Linked DNA regions of Homo sapiens: region 1 is linked to region 2. The links come from fine-mapping of genetic effects on gene expression. Tissue or cell type: naive CD4 T cells. Region 2 holds a variant in brackets; the other region holds the start of a gene. All regions are shown on one strand. Distances are from middle to middle.

Evidence for each region. PIP is the estimated chance that this variant, and not a neighbour inherited with it, causes the effect.
Region 1: PSMD6-AS2 starts here. The variant in region 2 is fine-mapped to the expression of PSMD6-AS2 in naive CD4 T cells (Schmiedel 2018, PIP 0.95).

The regions. Positions count from the first base shown.
Region 1 is chr3:63,999,894-64,007,893 of GRCh38, reverse strand. It overlaps PSMD6-AS2 (PSMD6 antisense RNA 2), which reads right to left and starts at 3,872. Exons shown (of 3, transcript NR_038286.1): 1 at 1,826-3,872. ATXN7 (ataxin 7) reads right to left here. Exons shown (of 13, transcript NM_001377405.1): 13 at 4,432-8,000. RefSeq lists an enhancer at 6,949-7,450.
Region 2 is chr3:63,751,375-63,759,643 of GRCh38, reverse strand. It overlaps the pseudogene CDHR18P. Among named protein-coding and RNA genes, the nearest start is that of C3orf49, 64 kb to the left of the region's middle. The variant C/T (reference allele first, on the strand shown) is at 3,141.

The DNA of each region.
Region 1 (8,000 bases), 250 kb before region 2:
GCCTACAACTTGATCACTAAGCATGCAATACTCAATACACTTAGGATTTTGTGACTGAACACATTTGGTCTTTTATAACCTGACCAAACATTAACTGATAAAAGGCTACTAAATCATTAGCAAATCATTTCTGTAATTTCATATTCTGAATTAGTCCTTGGTGCTGCTGTTAACCTAATGTTTTTAAGATGAACAGCTGACAGCTGAAATATCTGCCCCCATGATTATGGGGGAAAAAGCGTGGAGGGAACTATGATAATCCCTGACCTTCCCAATGCTACATAAACTTGTAGTTGCTGGTAACAAACCTGTGCCTCCACAATGGCAATGGGGGAGTGGGGTAAAATCCCCATCTGGATAACATGAAAAGCTCTGATAATCACTAGTTTTGGTTTCAAAGCTGTAGAGCCACAGATTTGCATTATGCTTGTGTTTCTGAAGGAATACAAAGGCTATCAGGAATTTGTAGCAATCTGATCCAGGCCATTTTAACCTTGACATACATGGTCAAAGGGTATAACCTTTTTTTTTTTTTTTTTTTTTTCCCCATTTAAAAATATCTTACAGTGGCATAACTTTCCCTGTACAAATTGGGTTTAAGAAACAAAAGGGACAATTTGCTAATCAATGATGAGCCTTTAATCCAACCATTATATATCCCCTTTCCATCCTTAGATCCCTTGAAGAGACCATTTAGTTAAGACTACCAACAGGTGACACCCTGACCTCCTTACCAACCTTGCCTTTTAGAGGTGACCAGAGACCTGTGCTTTTCCAAAGTACTGTTATACGTGTAATTAGTATAATATCAATGTGGGGAAACTCTACCTTTGGATTTTGAGGACTCTGCTTTTCTTGAAACCCTCTGGGTTAGAGACTGTTTATTCATATGCACCTCAGGAACTTGAGGCCAAGATGAAGTTCACTGTTTCCTAGTCCTTTGCTTGTTCTCCTGGCCATTATGTTTCCACCTTCATTCAAAATGCCTTCTCTTTGAAGCTGCTTATAACCCAGCAACACCATCAACTCACTGTGCTCACTGTCCTCAATCACACATCTCCAAGTCACTCTCCCCTCTTCCATGCAAATCATCCCAGAACCAAGCAACCCTAATTTGAAATGGACAACCTATACAACACCCTTGGCTTCACAGTTCCTCAGCCTGAATTCCAGTGCTCTTTTCCTCCATGCTGCTTCTGTCCACTGCCATGGTTTCCACCCAGGAATCACAAGCACCTCTGGCCAGTTCTGCTTTTGAAAATAATACTGGAATTCCAATTCCTCTGGCCAGTTCTGCTTTTGAAAGTAATACTGGAATTCCAATTCCTCCATTCCCTGTCCTATTCCTAAAAGTGCTGTATCACTTTGATAACTCTGGCCCCTGGATCTCACCTTGTAGCCCCTCACTTTTATTGGCCATGTGGAATTAAATGTGGACTTTGCTCTGTGACCCTGAACAAATCAATTGTCTAATCATAGAAAAAGTTACCTGGAAGGAGATTCCTAAGACCTAACAAGAAGATAATTCCAGTCAAACCAATGTCTTAAGAGCACCTGCATAGATTCTACATGGTTGGCTTCTAGTTCTCTTCCCTGAATACCCAGTTCAGACCATCATCAATCACTCAGCCACATCTTCACTCTTTGGCAATCTCCCTGCTCAAGTTCTATCTTTTCCACCCAACCAATACATGCTGTTCCAATTATCCTGGAGAAAACAGCAGGGCAATAAAACGTTAACTAAATAGGTAGATAGCATTGGTAATTATAATGGGATTGACTCAAAACATCTAACCCTGTAAACCATCTCAATGCCTTCCCTTACCTCTCTTTTTACTCTACTGCTCCTTCTCCATTTGTCTTCATGAAAATAGTCTTCTCCAAGGTTTTGTCCTGGGTTTTCTCTCTGGGCCATGGAGGATGGGCTTCAGGTTTGTGATATCCTGGAAGCGGAATATAAAAATGTGGTGTGCCTGTGCCTCGGTCAGACAGGATGCATAACTTCATGTGACTCCTGGAGTCTGAGGAGGGAAAAAATTAAGAATCACTGTTCTGACAGACCTGAATTACCCTGGATCTGCCACCTATTCGTTGTGGGACCTTAAGCAAGATACCTTCTTAGGAGTTCCAATCAGTATGATTGGAATCAAAATACCTGCCCTATGAGGGCTTAGTAAAAGAGAGGATGTATATAAAATGCTTGGCACAGTATCTGGCATATTAAGTACTTCACTAGAGAAGTATTATTTTAACATAATAATAAGCCAAATCGAATAGCTACTTAATTTTCCCAGGTAAACTCCATCTACCCTTATGACCTCACTGATGATCTAAAACTGAAAGACAACTCTCCATCTTTATTTTCCAGCTCAAACCTCCCTCCTAAAGTCCAACCAGCCTGTACAGCCAGCTGGGCACTAAACCAGAATTTCCCACCAGCAGCTCAAATCTATCGTTATGTCTTTTTCCTTCTCTGTTACCATATCGCACATTTCACTTAAAGCTCAATTGGTTTGGCCAAGCTAGAAACCTGAAGTCTTCTTAGACTCACTCTTCCCTTTAATGTTGAACAGAGTTAGACCTCAAGGCTTGTTGGTTCTACTTTTTAAAGATTTCTGAAATCAGTATCACTTATCCTCACAGTCAGCCTTCGTTTGGAAACTTAATAGCTCTTACCTGGATTACAACAGCTTTGTAACTTATTTTTGTCCCAAGGTTCTCACCTGTTGATTCTGTCTTCCATTGTTATTGGAGGGCCATAGGTGGCAGAGATGTTTTTTCCACAAAGTATTAAATTATAAGTGATTCTCCCCTTCCCCCTGGAGACTTTTTCTTTGGCTGATAGCCTCACTCTCCCTTACCTCCTAAGAGATATTCTGGTCCATGGTCTTTGGATGTAGAAAATGAGGATAACAAGTGCCAAGAATTACAGCCTTACAAGGTGAAATACTACTTTAATTAACTTCCATTAACAACAGGAGCAAGAACTTCTTACAGAAAGAGGAGACTAAGAAAGGAGTGAGAAGGGAGAGGAACTTAAGAGTTGATTTAGGGGAGTGCTTTTTGTTAGGACTGGGGACAGGGGCAGGTAAAGACAGATCTTTGAAGCAAAAGAGAGTGAGAATGCAAGACATGGGGAAAGAGACTTAAGTGCTCCTTTGCTTTTCCACAGTTTTCAGTACAGATTTGAATGGCTTTGACTTTTGGCAGCTGCACAGTGCTAGGACTGGACCATGAAATATCTCTGGGCTCTGACAATTACATTTGGGTTAATCTAAGCCTGATCCCATGTGTTCCTGGAAGAGAAGCCCCATGACATTCAAAGTCCTTGACAATCTGACACCAGCTTTTCTAACCCTATAAGGCCCTTCCATCCAGCAAACTTCCTGCAGAATTATTCTCTATCCCTCACATGTTCATACCCATGCTCGACGCATTTGCTCTCTCTGCCTAGAATCTTACTCTTGTCTGCCTTTCTGCCTGGTTAAATCCCACATACGCCAAGATCCAACACTGCTAAACCCCTTTCCTTGAGTTGGGATCATCTTGTTATGCAGGGCCGGGATACCTGCAAGGGAATGGAATTAAAAAGGTTAAGAGATTGAGCAGTTGAACCTTTTCTTGGGAGGTTTGAGGACAAGCCATAGTGAAAGGATTTACCTACAGAGAGCACCTCATTATTAGATTTGTGGAAAGTACTGAGTGGATGGTTGACTCAAGTAAGGAGGGAATGGGAAGTCCACAGGGCAGTAGGAACTGAAGCCAACATGACTCTTTCATATCAGGTATGGACATTCTTGCTAACACACAGCGGTTCCTCCTCTTATTTTAAGCAACAAAAATAATTTATCAGAATGGTTTATTTGCAAACAGTAAAAATGTCTGGATTTCTAGAGGTAAATGATTATGCTGTGTTCCAAATAATACTAAAATGCACTTGTATTGCCAGTAAGGGAGGTATGTAAAAGAAAGGAAGAGATTAGACCGGGTCTGGATAAAAAGCTTATCTTAAACCAAAACTACATGTCATCAAATTTGCACCTAAGTACAAATAGAATGTGTTTCTCAATCCATCAACTCCCTCGTTTCTTTCACAAACATGCAAGGCCAGAATACAGTAATGTTCACTGTTTACACAGTTACTAATTTATCCAAAGCAAAGCTTTGTGCCCCCAGATGGAAACATCCCCAGGCCTTAGAAGTATTTAGCTTATATAAGAGGAAGGCTAAATTGAAGGGGCTTCACAAGGGTGTTCCATGCCAAAAGTGATGAAAAGTCAGAGTAGACTGAAAGGGTTTAGTATCACAACGAGGCAGAAACGTACAATATTTCATGCAGCCAACCTTATTTATTGAGAAGTCCTAATTTTATTGCCCGTTTAGTAACATGTTTGTTCCACAAGCTAATTTCTTATAAAGCAAAGCACAACCTTTTCTTATAAATAGTATAAATTATTTTATTTACAGAAACTTGTTACAAAACAAATAGACTATATATTTCTTCTCTTTTAAATATCCAAAGTAATTTTCTATCCCTTGACATTTGTTCATGTTCTATACAGCAGCCAACACAAAGTCCAGCTGAGATGCTCTTGATTATGTGTACAAATTATCAAACTATTCACACGTTTTTAACACAGGAGATTGCTTTTATAACCAAGCTCAAAAAAAAAAAAAAAAAAAAAAAAGCAAAATGCTTTCAAGGCCCTACATTCACACTGACAGTATGTAGTGCTCATTTAAATTATCTGAAAATGTAAAATGTTTTGCACAAAATGTAAAAGTGATTATTTTCTGCTAAACAAACTTTTAAGAATATTTTTTCAAAGCCCAATCGCCCCAAACCCCCTGGACAGAATGAGCGACATTAAGAAATTCCTTGGCAACAGAACTCTTGCAGGAAGACAGCTGCCCTTATAAGTTACATTTTTCAAATTATACATTTTTTTCAATGTTCTCAGAGGTACTTCTTTGTATTATATTTTTGGAATACAAAATATTTTAAATATTTTAAATTGTATTTCATGAGTGAATAACAAAACGGACACATCGTGTAAGTTGCTGGCTGACAAAAAGATCTGTAACCCTTGGTGCCACCAGGCAATCCATCACCAATTGAATTACTATGAACCAAGAGGTCTTAATTTTAAAATACCTTATAAAATTACCAGCATTGGTGGTTTTCAACTCCGCCCCTAAAATTTTAGAAACAATATTTAGGTGGAAAAAGCAAACTCCAAAAGTTCAACTGAACATTCAAGTCTTTTTAAAGAGATTCTGTCTAAGCTTAAAACTAGTTTCAGGCACTTTCAGTTTTTTCCATTAGTTTTAAACCACATCACATAGTAACATACATGTGCTGAGTATACACACACACGCACAGGCACACACACACGCAGTCACATACTCCCACACATAAAATACTAACAAAAGAAAAGCAGTGTGTCACTTAGTTACATGTAGTCTATCGGGAAACCAGGCAACCAGGAAGAAGCAATGCCCACTTCATCTGTATGAATCCACTCCCGAGACACTAAAAGGGACAAAGACTTTTCACAGAACAGAGGCATCCCTTAAAACTGTAAAGGAGGCAGGTTCTAGAACTATTGGCTTGGCAGTGAACCACTTCAAATTATAAAAAGGTATTTACTTTTATTAATTAATAAATAAATACTAGATGATCTCAATTGTACCAAAACAGGATATCAGAAAAAAAGACCTGTGCAAAAATACATATTTAAATATGTACAATTCATTTTTAACAAAATATGTCTTCTGAAATAGGGATACTTCCATATTTATAATAGAACAAGAAATTCCAAAATAAAGATACAAAAGTAGGTTTTGTATAATTCTTTGTTCATCATTGCAGCACTTTTTTTTTTTTTTTGTAGGTTAAGAAAACTGCAGGAGTTGTCATGAAATTCTATTGGAAAGAATATAAAAATTATCTTGGTTTTAAATTGATACCAAAGTCTGTCTAGAAACAACCCAACCACTGCAAATTTGGTTTTTGCAAGTTAATTTAATTCAAAAAAATACTTGTACTCCCGTGTTTTAAATGGTCTTAATTATTCATCACCATAAAAAGTAGTTTAGGAGAAAATAAAATATTTGAACAACAGTCTAAAATTTAATAGCACTGTTTAGAATAGGTCTGTTTGTGGCAGACAGAATCCAAAATGGCTAATTTCCTAATCCCGATGCTCTGTGTATTACCGGGAGAAATAATGAAATTCATTTAAAACCTCAGTCTAAGAAATCAAATGTTCAATACTTGCTAATCTAAATATCTACATTAGTCTGAATCAACTTGTTATTGTGGATCCTATTCACATCTTTCGGAACAACATGATCGATCTGTAAATTCCATTGCTAAAGGCAACTTTATTTATAACCATCAAGTCCTCTTGGCTCTGAAAATAAATTCTACCCATACCCCATTGCACTTGTCACCAAGGAATCAACTAGGTACGTTCTGATTCCCTCTCACCTCTCTCTTCCCCGACTGGGATGGAAACCAGACTGATTTCTCCCAACTATGCCAAACTGGCCCATCCATGCCCTCTCCTTACTAAGCTCTCCTGTAGTATCATTTTAAAAACATTTACTGATTGATTGCATAATAATTGAACAAGATACTGTTCTCTCCTTCCTTTAAAAAAATCAGTATTTTACATCAATTTATAGCTAAAGTATCTGCATAAAGTTTTTGTTTTCTTACATAATAAGAATAATTCTGTAGCAATTCACATTATTAGGCTGGTAACCAAGTTTATTCATTCTACCTGTTGTTGACTTGAAATTCCCTGAAACTGAAGTTTGAAACCCAAGAACTGTAGGAAAAAAAGAATGTACTGACTGGCTCTCATCAGGCCCTGGCCAGGGCAACGATCAGCGCCTTGGAAATTTTACCCTGTGTTCGGCAACTTCGTGTGTTCTTCTAAGCAACAGTGCCTGTTACTCGTGTCAGGAGCCTGTAGTGGTGGAAGCACCCATTTAAAGGCTCCGGCTCGTCCCGGAATTCAATGACACCTTCTCCAAGCAATGCTGTTTTAACATATTAAGGTCTTTCTTTAGGGGTGGGGGGTGGGGTACTAGAAAAAATATCCTAGAGGGCTCCAAAACTCTCAGGAAGATGGCTGGTATAATCCCAAGAAAGGAGGGTGTGTGTCAGGGCAATCCTATACATGCATCACAAAAGACCTTCAGGTCAGGACTTACATTCTCTCCAACTCCCTTTCCTTGGTGTCTGCTCTCGTCCCCAACCACATCCAAATAAACATCTGAAGTGGCATGAAGGGGAGTGCATACAAAAACACACAATGCCAGAAGTGCTTGAAGCAGAAATCTACACTTAGTCCCAGGACAGTATCCAAAGAGAAAAACAAGGGTAATGTAGAGAGTGCCTTGGAAACATTTAAGTGTATCTAATAATGTCACTTTAAAAGGTGACTTTTAAAAATAGACCAGGTAGGACAACCAACCCAATCTGCCATACTGTTTACTATGAAAACTTAAAAGGATTAAGAAAATTTCATCTCTTTGGAAATCTTGAAAAAAGTTTTTTCTCCCTATAGTGATTTTAACTTCCTCACTCCCACCCTCCCCCGACCCAATTTGGCCTTCCTTTCTCAAAACTAGCTTGCATTTTCTTTCTTCTTAAAAAAAAAAATCACACAGAATTGCTTTTGTATCATGAAAAGTAAGCCTCCAAAATGATTTATACTTGCTGTCTGGGCATCAAAAATTTCAAACCAGTTTGTAAGTTAGAAACTTCTGACAGCTTCTTTTCCCAAATTACTCTCAAAAGGCTGGGCTATTTTGTCATGGTGTCTTGGGCTAACATCTATATTTCATTCCTGGAACATTGCTATCAAAATCTAAAGCCTAATTCCCTTCTTCAGAGGGTTGCTCGGGATGCAGCCCTGTGTTCTCTGGAAGGTTTCTGGTCTCCAGTTAAGGTGCCTAACTGCTGGAGAGTGACCTACAGATGACAG
Region 2 (8,269 bases):
GGGTCTAGACTGGGTGCAGTGGTTCATACCTGTAATTCCAGCACTTTGTGAGGCCAAGGTGCAAGGATTGCTTGAGCCCAGGAGTTTGAGACCAGACTTGGCAACATAGCGGGACCTCGTCTCTAAAATTTTTTTTTTTTAATTACTTAGGTGTGGTGGCATGCACCTGTACTCCCAGCTACTCAGGAGGCTGAGGCAGGAGGATCACTTGAGCCAGGAGGTTGAGGTTGTAGTAAGCCATGGTTGCACTACTGCACTCCTGCCTGGGTGATGGAGTGAGACCCTGTCTCAAAATAATAATAACAATAATAATAATAATAGTAATTTGAGCCTATTTGTTATGCAGCCAATAGATCATACCCATTTCTCTTCTAAGAGATTATCTGGGGGTATTGCACACTGGAATTACAGAAAGTGATTTTAAAAATATGGGCTGTAGAATCATCAGGTACCAGTTTAAATCCTGATTCTACCACTATTAGCTCTGGACAGTGAGCAAGTTACTTAATACCACTAGACCTAATTTCCTTATCTATAAAATGAGGACTGTAATAGTGGATATATAATAAGCCTGTTGAGAAGATTCAATGAGATAATTCAATTAAATAATAGCTAATTTTTACTTAGTATTTACTTACATACCAGGCACTATTCTAAGTGCTTTATACATTTTAGCTCATTCACTCCTCACAACTTTGTATGGTAGATATTATTCCTAGTTTGCAGATAAATAATATGAGGGCTGGAGCGGTTGAAGAATCTTCCAATGAGTTGCACAAATAAATGATAGACCTGAGACTTGAAACCTAGGAAGTCTGGTTTCAGAGTCTGGGCTGTGAACCGTTATCTGATGCTAATCTTAGCATGATGCCTAGTAGAAAATATTCATGCAGTGCATGTAAGCTAATCATTATTATTATAAAGTTACTGTTAACTTATGTTATTTGACTCAAGGCAAATGGTTTAAAGTGATAGAGGACTTTCTCTGAATTTGTTTTCCGTTATGTTGAGTTGAAGGTCTTCAAACATATTTCATTATCCAAAAGAATAGAGGCTGATCCTTTGAGAAACTGTGATACTATTTGGTAGGCAAAGACATGTTAAGTTTTTTTTAAAGCAGTGTATCTGCATGATGAGAATGAGCCTTATAAAATGTTATTGGCAGCATTCTATAAAGTTGGAAGAGTGATTGCCATTGATGAAGAGCACCCACCAAATTGTGTGACATACGAAATAGCCAATGGAGACACCCAGGTTATACAAAGATTCTGGATTCATCCTCTCTCTGGAATGATCGAACTTACCACACAGCCAGACTGTGAGTCTGTGAAGCAATATAACCTCACCGTGGAAGCTGTGGACTGTGACAGATTTCACCCTTGTACAGCAATGACCATGATAAGTAGAGAGACCCAGATTTTGACATTATAGAGATGCTCTATTAAATTCTAATTTATTAAAATCAGACTGGCCAAACAGTTACAACAATGGAGAATAGAGAAGCTCATAACTTTCTCTTACTGCCTAAGCATTCTGTAACTTTTGCACATGTTATACTTTAAAAGTTTGAGGCATGTTTGAAAATGAAGAACCTGCTAATACCCCTCATTCTGATGAAAATAATAAACTTATAATAATGTCAAATATTCACCTAGTACTTACCGTGTGTTCAGTTCTAGACACATTATATATATTGACATGGTACAACTTCACCTTAAACTTTTTAGGTAGGTAATAATATACTATAATCATTTTCACCCTACAGGTGAGGAAACTGAGGGACAGAGTTTAGAAAACTTCCCTTAATTCCCTAATTATAAGATTTGTAGAACTAGACTTAAATACAGTCTGCCCCTTGTTAAGAGGTGATGTTTGTAATGAAGGTAGTTAACCAAGGTGCATTCTTTTGGCATCAAAGTGGGGGAAGGTATGGCCCTCTAAGTTATGTAAGCAATGTCAAAGGACTCTTGAAAGAAACCAAGGGTGAATGCTGCTGTACTGATGATGTGGTGTGTGTTATTAATGACAATAAGGTTTTGTCATTGGAGAAGAAACAGGAAGCTCTTTTGAGAAAGAGGAAGCAAATTTATCTATGCCTTTAAGCATAGATATTTAAAGAGTTCAAGGGATTACAATTTCTAGAGGCATCATTCGTCAGCTTTCCTTTTCTCATCATTTACATTAACAGTAGGCTTAAATAATTATAAGGACTCCATCTGGCCTAATGACTCCCTGTACATTTCCTCCTATTGTACAGAGCCCCCTGGCTTGCTGCTTATGTGGTTATTAGGTTTTCTGAGTGTGTCATTGTGATGAAAACATCAACCATTTATATCATAATTAGAATGACTTTCACAGGGACTGAGTTACAGTCATGAGGAAGGGATTAAGTGGCTTGTTTGTCTCAGTATGATACCCATAAGAGTAATCTTTAGACCTAGGTACCTGTGGCAGTTTTTCCTGTAGACATTTAAGGACTCCCAAATAGTATAGGATGATACCACTTAGAATTATCATTTACTTACTACAAATGAGAAGAGGGGAAAGCAGATTTAATAATAATTCAACAACCCCCAAATCTTCAAGTGACTCTGTTTCACCCAAAAACAAAGCAGGAGCTTGCTCATTCATTCTTTCTTTAATGAATATTTATTGAATGTTTACTCTATGTACAACATCCTTTGTTACAAGGAAGTATAAGGTAGCATATATGACCAGAGAGCTTCAAAATTTTAACATGTGGGAAGTTAACTAGTATATAGCAACTGCCAAATTTTATATATATTTATATGCCAAATTTATATATATATAATGTGTTTATATATATATAATGTGTGTGTATATATATATGTGTATATATATAATGTGTATATATATATAATGTGTATATATATATAATGTGTATATATATATATAATGTGTATATATATATATATATATATATATATATATATATATATACACACAATTCAGAAAAGGGAGATAGGGCTTTAGGCTCCAAAGTTTAGGAATCCATCATCATCATCATCATCACTATCATCATCATCATCATCACTATCATCATCACCCACTCATTATTGAGAATCTAATAAAAGTCAAGTGCTATGAAATGCCCTTGATTATCTCATTTAGAATTTAAT[C/T]TCATCTTATGGAATAGTTACTGATACTCCTTTTAACAGATGGAAGAATTTTATTTCCAAGGCTTCAAAGTTAGGTAGCTTATCCAAGATTACCCATCTGAAAGAAGGAGAAGGATTAAGTCTGAGTACTTAATCACTATCATGTACCCTAAATTATTTCTCCAATCCAACAGCAATTTCTGTCTTCTCTAATTTCAGAATGTACCTTAAGTCCTTCCACTTCTTACTTTTCTAACTTGTCTACTGCTAATACCCCAACTGTGCCTTTACCATACCTCACCTGGTCTAGTGTAGCAGCTTCTTGATTAGAACCCCCATTCCTACTTGTGCCCTTCACAGCCTACTCTTCACACCACAGCCAGAGTGACCTTTTAAAAAGATAAATCATCCTGTTCCTCAACATTCTCCATTGGCTTCCCATCATGCTTAGTTAAGCTCCAATGTCATCTTCAAAGTCTGCAGTGCCCTCTATGATCTGGGCCCTGGCTACCAATTTGTCTTTAGCTCCTAGCTCTCTCCCTCTTACTTACTTCAATCCAGCCACATGAAACATTTGTTGTTTTTCCAACACACCAACAATGTTTTACCTCAGAACCTCTGCCAAAGACTGTAATGCTTATCTTCCATTGGCTCATATTCTCACTTTAATCATATCTCTGCCCAAATGAAATTTGTTTCTAAGGGCCTTTTATATTGTGTGTAATGGTGGGCATTTGAAGCAATCCATGTGTGTTCATCATGGGAAATGAACAAGCAAATATGGTAGATGCATACTACAGAATACAGACTCCAGAAATAGCAAATGAATTCTGCAAACAAAAACATGGAAAGCACATATATGGCGCTGGGTGAGAAAAGTAAGAAACACAAAAGGTCTATAGCACCATATCATTTGTGCAAGTCAAAATTATACAACTAAAAGCTACATATTCTATGAGGATACATACATGCTTAAGGACATATAACAAACATGAGAGAGAGGGAATAGGTGAGTGGGTCAAAGAAATAAATCCCTCTTAAAATACTTCCATCAGCTATTCTCTATCTCCTTAACCCAAATAGCATCAGCTTATCCTATGATTTTGCCTAATATATTTATTTGTCAGTATAGTTATTGCTTTGCTTTCGTCATTAGAATAAATTATATTAGATCAGGGTCTTTGTTTTTGGTTTACCACTGTAGCTTCTGTGGTGTCTAGATCAGTGCTTGGCACATAGTAAGTATTCAATAAATATTCACTGAATGAATGAACTGATCCTTCTGACAGTCCTGAGAAGGTAGAGATTGAGATCTGCTTTTTGCAGTTGAAGAAAGAAAAGGTAAGTCACTAGTGCCAAATAAAGTCATCAATAAGTGTCAGGCCCAGGATTTTAATAAAGATTCCTGATATCTTTCTGTGATATAATGGAAATAGCACTGGACTATTCCAGAAATCTCCTTAAAATCCGTTTAATTATTATGTAAAAAGTCTCACATACTTGGTGAGACACATAGCTGTATTCAGTCTATAGAAGTAGCATTAAAGAATGAACCATTCCTTAAGAATTTAGCTATGTTTTTAAAACATTACATAAAACACTTTAAAAAGATAATACTTGCAAATATTGGTGCACCACGGATTCTTCTGCAAGTATTATTGAGACAGTTATTAGTCATCTAAGAAGTGGGTAGATAACCTTTCTAGGCTGACTGGTATTCAATCACTGACATTTAAAAATTCTTGATATTTTGATCTTTTTCTACGTAAATTATAGTTTCCTAGTTTATGGTATTTTAATTAAGAAAAGGTTGATAACAGTCCCTAATTAAGGTCAGAGCATACTTTGAAGTAATCATATTGTTACCAATAAAATATTGAGTTTGAGAGAGTAGTACTGAGGAAGTTCTTTTGAGAAAGAGGAAGCAAATTTATCTATGCCTTTAAGCATAGATATTTAAAGAGTTCAAGGGATTACAATTTCTAGAGGCATCATTCTTCAGCTTTCCTTTTCTCATCATTTACATAATTTGTGAGCTTTCCACAAGCTTATCTAATGAGCCAAAATCCTACCTAACGGCTACATTGAATGTCACAGTTAACCCAGGAATAATAAACCACTGACTAGTTGATTGATGGCCAGAATTCCAATCTGCAGGAACATTTTTTTTAAATCCAAATCTCTAGACTTTTTATTTAATAATTCCAAATGATCCGTCTCTACCCTTATGCTTATTTCTGATATTGTGTATAAGTAGTCACATGGTGTGGATTTGATGTTTCTTCTTCCCTCATGGCTGACAGATCACTGTTGACATTGAAAATGAGAATGATGAAGCACCTGTCTGCACACCCTCTCTATATAAGACAGTCATTTTTGACAATGTTGTTCTTGGGACAAATGTCAATGGCTTCACCCTGAACTGCCACGACGGAGAGTCACAAGATTTTGAAATGCGTTTTGAGATGGTTTCTGGTGCATAATTTTATTATTTCTTTTAATCGTGAGCATATGTCAAATTGACATTAGTTTTGCCCTGTTAGATATTATGTATAACTTCAGAAATAATTATGTTTATAACAGTTAAACTATTTAATATCTATAGCATTGTTTCCTCAAGGCATCTTTTTTACTTTCACATATCAAATCTAATTCCTCCCATAATGGAAGTATCAGTAATTTTACAGATGCTTTGACAACGGACTTTGAACCTGGATGGGAAATGTTGAAGGTTAAGTTACAAGGAATGAAGTCTGCTGTCCATGGTACTGGATAACAACAGCCACCTTTCCATTTGATGCTATTAGTACAGATTCAGTAGGATGCGTGGTTTCAAACTGTGTTATTTTTGGATTTGCACAGATCCATATCAACTTAAGCCATCTTATTTTTTACGAAAGGCATATATTGGGACCAACTATGTATCAGGCAATGTGCTCGGAAATGTGTACACAGAAGTATATGAGACAGATATTCACGGCACTCATTGTTTACTAAACTAGTAGTAACACCAGCAATTATAAAATTACATACTGTGATAAGTTCTATAAAAGAAAACTACTGGGTATCATGAGACAGCATAACGTGGAGACCTATTTAAATTATGGAGATCAGACCTGCTGTCATGTATCTGAAGGAGTAGAAGCTTGGAAATCAGTAAGGACATTGCCAATTGATTATAAAGACTAGTTTGATGTCTTATTCCCTTGCTGGGTGATAAGCTCCATGAAGGTAGGGACCCTGTGTATCAACAATGTCTCCAGGGCTATGGAGATAACTTAAAATTAGAAGGGGCTCAATAGATATTTATGATCTGACCGGCCCATTTGATATTGATCTAGACTAAGTTGAAGATGGGAATCAAATTGATCTGAGTAGAAGGAAAGGAGAATCAATTAGATAATAATTTGAGGCTTGCTGGCTATATATGGGATCAGATTCATGATCTTAATCTTCAAAATTTTTTTTTCCTAACCAACTGAAATTGTTGCTCATTTGATCTCAGCTTTATTATAAGCCATGTATAGATATAAAAACTCAGGGTGCAATGGAAATTTTAAAAAAATTTACGCCTACTGTGTTTTAATAGCAATTTAAGGTAGTTTGAGAAAATCTTTCAATATACCTTAAAATAATTCTAACTTCTCAATTATCACTTTTAAAGGAAAAGAGAACCATCATTTTGGATTTGACCCAACTCGAGGTTCAAATACTCCAAAATTAATTGTGAAGAATCCTTTCAACTTTGAATGTAGAGCTGAAGTACAGCAGCAGTACCATCTTGTTGTGCATATAATTGATGATAACTTGAAATATGGCAAATCCACCAAGCCCAGGACAGGCACCGCTGTTATAGATATTTATGTGAGAAGAGCCAATATGCCACCTCCTCCAACCACTAGTTGTGAAGTAAAGAGTTATAGAATTTAATTTGGGTCTCTGTATGGGAAATGTTCTACTGTAAGTTCAAGTTTCATCTAAAAAGGCTAAAGGGCTACTCAGGGCAGCACCTTCACCCATATGCTTTTCCACTTGGGCGCTACCCCATCCAGCCACAGGACCACATTTTAGAGTGTACATCTATGAGTATAAATTGAGAGGTGAAACAGAATTTATGAGAATTGCAAGTAGAGCATAGAGAACTCCTAAGAAACTAATTATGTCATCTGAATGATCTGAAAGTCCTGCCCATCAGAAGGGCCCACTACTCAGTGAATTTTATCAATTAAAAAATCTCTACAAATGGGTACTTTGAAAGTTTATTCTCGCGGCCGGGCACGGTGGCTCATGCCTGTAATCCCAGCACTTTGGGAGGCCGAGGCGGGCAGATCATGAAGTCAGGAGATCGAGACCATCCTGGCTAACACGGTGAAACCCCATCTCTACTAAAACTACAAAAAATTAGCCGGGTGTGGTGGCAGGCACCTGTAGTCCCAGCTACTCGGGAGGCTGAGGCAGGAGAATTGCTTGAAATGGGGAGGTGGAGGTTGCGGTGAGCCGAGATCACGCCACTGCACTCCAGCCTCGGTGACAGAGTGAGACCTCATCTCAAAAAAAAAAAAAAAGTTTCTTCTCTAGTAGCCATGATATTCACAGTCATGAGCACATACCATGTGCCAGGCACTGTACTGCATGTATTATATTCATCATTTCATTTTATCTTCAATCCAAACCCCATGAAGTTTAGCAGACCTTTCAGTATTTCATTATTTAAAAAAAATAGGTATGTAAAGCCTCTGCAGAATTCCAGAATGGCTCCTGAATAATGCACAGATAAACTGTTCAGTAAACATAATGGTTAGTTTATTTTGTTGTTTTCTATCCTTTGAAATAGAAGCATTGAAAAAAACATGGGTGGTAAATCCTCCCAACAGAATGCTTGGTTTTCAAGAACACATTGTTCTCTTAAACTGCACAAAAGCAGTTACTGTGTGTAGAGCAGATAATGGGGCATATAAACTTAAAAGGACCTCAGATACCACCTAGTGAAAACCCTTGATTTTACAAATGAGAAAACTGAAGACAAGGAGGAGAAATGGTTTGTTCAAGATCATAGAGTGGTCATTGCATACAATTCAAGTATTCACTTCCTTAATTTGGGGCCTTCTGTATGCAAGGGTGTTCCTCGGTATTTTAAAATACCTGTAGTG